2 separate regions of the Homo sapiens genome follow, and region 1 is linked to region 2. Evidence: fine-mapped expression QTL. A gene starts in region 2. The other region holds a variant in brackets. All regions are shown on one strand. Distances are between the middles of the regions. Region 1 overlaps TBL1X (transducin beta like 1 X-linked). Region 2 holds the start of CLCN4 (chloride voltage-gated channel 4).

What was found. PIP is the estimated chance that this variant, and not a neighbour inherited with it, causes the effect.
Region 1: its variant is fine-mapped to the expression of CLCN4 in lymphoblastoid cells (GTEx, PIP 0.94).

Annotation. Positions count from the first base shown.
Region 1 is chrX:9,639,632-9,642,553 of GRCh38, forward strand. TBL1X (transducin beta like 1 X-linked) reads left to right here. Exons shown (of 18, transcript NM_005647.4): 3 at 642-729. Among named protein-coding and RNA genes, the nearest start is that of GPR143, 120 kb to the right of the region's middle. The variant C/T (reference allele first, on the strand shown) is at 1,662.
Region 2 is chrX:10,155,398-10,158,319 of GRCh38, forward strand. CLCN4 (chloride voltage-gated channel 4) reads left to right here and starts at 1,578. Exons shown (of 13, transcript NM_001830.4): 1 at 1,578-1,703; 2 at 2,892-2,922.

The DNA.
Region 1 (2,922 bases), 520 kb before region 2:
GAAGAGTAAATGAAAAGTTGAGACGTTAGTGGGTGCCTTTGGTTTTCTTGATTTTAGAGGAGCCGGAGGAGAAAGGATTCTGACCCGTTTGTGTGTTTTTATGAGCACAGTACATGAGGATGCATATATGCACACAAATGTGCCTGGTAGAGTTATTGGAAAGCTAGCCCAAGCGATGGGGAATGTTTAGCTAAAGCGTGTTGTCTTCTCCCGAGGGTGTGCACAGGTTCATGTATCAGCTGAATAAGGCCCTGTTCCAAAAACTGATATTTCAAGGGAACCTTAATTTATCTTTAAATTTAATGTAATTTAAAATTAATTTAAATCTTTAAATTATCTTTAAATAATAGCAGTAGCAATAGCTGAGCTAACATTAATTTTATCTATTTTGAGACTCTTTTATTTCAGAACTTCTACATGCATAATGCCTGACCGGCCACTTTTAATTTCTCCTTTCTTTCACTTTGCAAACAAAACCTTACAATCTGTGCTATGGACTAAGACAGAAATTAAGAACCAATAAAATGTGTTAAGTTTTAATTAGGAAGAAGAAAAAACCTAAAGGAACGGGATGGTTGAGAGGTAAACACACCCCAATGATTTTTAAGTCTTTTGTTTCAAACCTTTCCCTTTCTCCCTAGGCTGGTCCCTGCAGACGGCTTCCCATTTTTATGACCGGATGCTGGGAAGCCTGCTGGTCCACAGGTCCATACATGAAGTCACCATAAGGTAAGCAGCCCAGCATGCCATTGGATCCTTGCCCTTGTACCTGAAATCCGTTTGAGGAGCAGAACTGCATTTTCCCAAAATGGAACCCCTTCTGTTTTAAATGATGTTGTCAGGGGAAGTGCCCGGTCTTTCTCCTTACTGAAGGTTGAAGGTAGTAGACAGACAATCATTAAATCATTGCGAGCTGCATAGTCAATTCCAAATGAGAAATTTGCCTTTTTACTGACTTCTGAGAATTTTGGGTTGTGTTTTTGTTTTGTTTTGTTTTGTTTTTGTTTGTTTGTTTTGAGACAGAGTCTTTGCTCTGTCACCCAGGCTGGAGTGCAGTGGTGCAATCTCGGCTCACTGCAACCCCCGCCTCCCAGGTTCAAGCGATTCTCCTGCCTCAGCCTCTCAAGTAGCTGGGATTACAGGCACCTGCCACCACACCTGGCTAATTTTTAAAATAGTTTCAGTAGAGACAGGGTTTCACCATGTTGTCCAGGCTGGTCTCGAACTGAGCTCAAGTGATCCGCCCACCTTGGCTTCCCAAAGTGCTGGGATTACAAGTGTGAGCCATTGCATCTGGCCTGCCTTCTGAGAATTTTGGATCCTGAAGGAGCTATAACAAATTTTTCTGGGTCTTACCAGGCGAGGATGACACCTTCTAAAATCAACCTCTCTTGTCAACATTATCAATTACAATTATGCAGACAAGTTAATTATAATTGGGTGCATGAGTATAGATTTTATTTGGCTCCTATATCTTAATTCTATGCTTTATCAGTTTCTTAATATGATTTGTGTCTGTCTCCAAATTGATTTGCTAGTTAACTTTGAAACTTATTAGAAAATCATGGAGATTACTATGTGTAAATCTGGTGAGATGCTAAGGTTTCCTGACTAGCACACCAAACAATTGTATGTGCACAGGTGTCAAGAGTTGAGAAGCC[C/T]GTAGCCCAAACTAAAACTGAGACCCATGCCCCAAAAGTTCTGTAAAAGTTATCTTACTACCTTTCGGTACGTGTGATTTTAATTTCACTTTACTTAATTGTTATTTAATTTTCTGTTTCTTTCTCTAATGCCTTTTTAGTTAAAAAAACAAACAAACAAACCTGTAGAACTTGGGCAGTTTTAAAGTGTAAAGATAGAATTTTGAGGAAGCTTTTTGATTTACTATTTTAAGAGAACCAACTAGAACTAAAATGATAGACTTAAATTTAATTAAAATAAGCAGCTTACTGTTTGAGGTACTTTTGTTTAAAGCCAGACATATGCATATGTAGGTTGTTTTAACAAGTTAAATATGTATAAGTATTTTAATGAAAGGTGTAGTCTGTTTATAAAAACAAAATTTGTAATGTATTAGTGAATTTGAATTTTCTGACTGGCTTTTTCACTCAGTATAATGTTTTCAAGGTTCGTGTGCATTGTGGCATGTGTCATTTCTTTTTATGTCAGAATATTCCATTGTGTGGCTAGACCATGGATAGAACATATTTGATTCATGCATCAGTTGATGGAAATTGGAGTTGTATTTCCCTTTTGGTTATTATTAAAAATGATGTCATGAACACACATATACAAGTTTTTTTGTGTGGACATATGTTTCATTTCTCTGTGGCATTTACTTAGGAGTGGGTCATATGGTACCTCTGTTGAACATTTTGAGGAACTGAATTTTTCCAAAGTGGCTGTTACACCAGTCAATATTTTTCGAAATGCCATTGAACCATATTTTAAATGTCAGAGGGAAGCAGGGAGGGGATCTTTCTCTTATCAATGTTTTGAGTGGGTATTAGTTCAGTACTTTGGGAACATAAGCTTCAATTTCATTGAATCCAGCACACATTGGATTTCTCCTCTGCGTGAGGTATCTGTGTTTGGCTTTATACCTCAGTCATTTATACATGACTGAGTGTTTTTGTAGCCTTTGATAACTTGTATGGTTTATACATGCAGATAGTCATTTGGCATTATCCTCAAAAATGGTACTCTATTGCTGTAGTTCATTAGTAAGGTTGGGAATAACCTACATAACATACTCTTTCTGCCTATGCTGCGTGCTGCGTCTCAGAAAGTGAGGGCTTCTAACGGTTTCCTTGAGGTGTGTGTGGTTTCAACACATGTCCTCCTTTCAAAGGCATCCATCGCAGACCCTGGTGATAGTGTTTTTTGTATCTCAGTCTTAAAGGGGTTGGTATGGTTATGAGG
Region 2 (2,922 bases):
CGAATGAACAAAAAACTCAAAGGTTATTATTCCGTAACTATTGAAAGAATCTTTTCATGAAGGATGGTAATAACCAGCTTTCTATCTCCACACAGAGCAAAGTAAAAAGAAGTAGGTTTAAATGGAAGAGAAATTAAAACTGGACATACAGATGGTTAAATATTAACAACGGCCCCTGAATGGCACTTTCTTTCCTAAAGATCTTCATGAGCAGAATAATCTAGGATGGCTAGGGATTGTTCCCTCGGGACTTTGTGGTTAAGAATTCAGGATCTTCAAGTAATGAAATCTGCATTAAAAAATTAGCCAAAACTGTTTGTTTATTCCATAATCATGTCTATATGGTGCTTTTAAGAAAACAATTTTTTTGTTGCTATAAAAGCAATACATATTCACTGTGGAAAAATTAGACGATATCTCTAAGCTTAAAAGAAGAAAAATTTAAAACACCCTTAATCCCACTAACCAGTGAGATACCATGTTTGATACTTTAGTGAATTCATTTCCTAATAGTTTTCTGTGTTCGCAAAGGTATATGTGTAGATATAAATATATTACACCTACATAGAAACGACGGATCACTCAGCACATAATGCTTTGAAGCTTCCATTTTTTTTCCCATTTAATCCGCTGCACATGTCTTTTTCCATCCGTGTGTACCACCGTATTAGTTTTAATTCTTCCACTGCACAGATGGCTTATAATTTAAAACATCCCCTGTTTTTGGAGATTTAACTTGTTTCCAGTGCTTTGAGATCATAAGTAATATTGCAGCAAACTTTCCCTAGTCAGGGGTTTGCACACCGTTCTTCCCCCCACCCCCACTCCCCACACCCCAGGACAAATTCTTGGACATCAAGTTGCTGGAGCACATGATACCAACAGCTGTAGGGCCCGGAGTAATTGGCGAAACTGTGTATCTGTAAGGCATTTGGTAGGAAAAATGCTAAACAGACCACCAGAAAGATTGCTCAACTTACATTCCCATGGGTGGTATTGGTTTTTGCTTTTTTTGGTTTTGTTTTTTAATCTTGGCTAAAATGACAATTTGAAAGGCGAGGGTGGAGGGTGTTCAGACAGCTCTCTCATTCTGTTGAGAATTGCTTGGCCCAGTTCTGGGCCTTGTCTGAATTGCCGGTTTGCTGCAATGTTTTTTACAATTGAGCAATCACCTAGAAAAAAGAGAAGGTGAAACTAACCTACTGCAAAAAAACTGCTCCAGGATGAAGAAGGTTGCCTGTATTTCGTCATTTCAGCCAAGCCGGAATACGGAGCAAGGCTGTCTGCACCGTGCTACCATCCTCTTCAGGCTGCAGGGCATTTTGTATACCCACCACCTCCCATTGATGCTGGAAAATCCGGTCACAGAATTCCGTGCAGCCCAGCCCCTGAGGGTGGGGCGTCCTGTCTCCGGGACGCCGGGTTTTCTCTGGACACGAATGCTCCGGGGGTAGGAGGCGAATGACACTGGCACGGCGGGGCTCCGGAGCCAAGAGGTGACCAGGCTGGCTGGGCAGGGCTGAGTGGCTGGGCCGAGCACGTGATGCTCCCAGCCGGCCTCCGGGGCCCTCCGGGCTGAAATCGACATTTGCCTCTGGCAGGAAAATGAGCTTGTCAGTTTCTGCCTCCATTAGACCCTCAACCCAAAGGAGCAGGAGATTTCGGTAGCGTTTTAACTTTATCTCAGAATCTGAAAGCGGAAGGTAAGCTGCTTATCACTCAGAAAAACAAATTTGAGAGGAGTGACCTAGTAAAGTACACTGCGACTTTGTTGATTTTTAAAATCTGGTGTTGAAAATAATTGATCGCTGTGAGAGTCAAGGGCTGTATTTATCCCCAAATTAGAGATTAACCTTCTGAACAGAAATTTGGTTAATTTGGAGGGAATCACGGTATAAGGGCCAGGGTTAAATATAGAAGGACACGAAAGCTGATGGAATAAACTGCAAGTAAACTTAACTCTAGCCTGCTTGTAAAACAATCTATTTCATGTCTCCTTCAGGGCTGTGAGCAAAGGGAATGTTAAAATTGTGATTTTTAACTCAAGTGAAAGTAAATGAATCTATTTGCAATTGGAATACAAATAAAAGCAGTCTTTGCTTTTGTCCTTTTACATTTCAAAAACGCTTGTGTATTTTGGCAAAAGAAAAGTTTATATGTGCACTGCTTAAGTTTGAAATACGCTATTTCAAATTTACAAAATTATCACAGTTGTAATTTTCTAAAGTCTTTCTAGGCAAGGCTGTTTCAGTTGTGAATGAGAAATGTTGACATTGTACATATTTTCTGTGATAGTAAAATGACTCACTTCTTCAGAATGTGATAAAGATTAGAAAATGTGAAATAATGAGTTATTGTGAATTAAGTCATGTCTCAGAGATTAAATGCCTTGCCAGAAGATGTAAGAAAACAGAGACACAAATACAACCATGCTCACGTAGCAGTGCTTTATTTTAAATCATCACATATTTAAGTAAGTAGTAGAAATACGTGGTGTCACCATTTTTTCCTTTGGCAAATACAAATTAATATTGGAATGCAGCTATTCAGAGTAATTAAAGCATTATTCATCCGTGCAATTAGTATAATGTTCCATAATGAATTGCTTTGAACTAAAGTGTTTGGTATAATACTCGATATACGGCTTGAAACATAGAAACTCTAGGCAAAGTATGTCCATGCTATATTTTGTGTCATTTTGATTTGCACAAAATGTTTATTTCTCCACTGCATTTGATAAATACTAGTTTTAAAATAAAACATGAAATTGTATTTCCTTTCACTGTAATCCCTTTATTGCTAATTCTTTTGAAATCCTATTACTCGCTTGGAGCCTGTAATAATTTGGATTTCTCCTCCTGTGTGTTGTTTTTCATAATTCTTCGCGAAAGGCCAGGCAAGCTGCACACATCAAGCGAAACG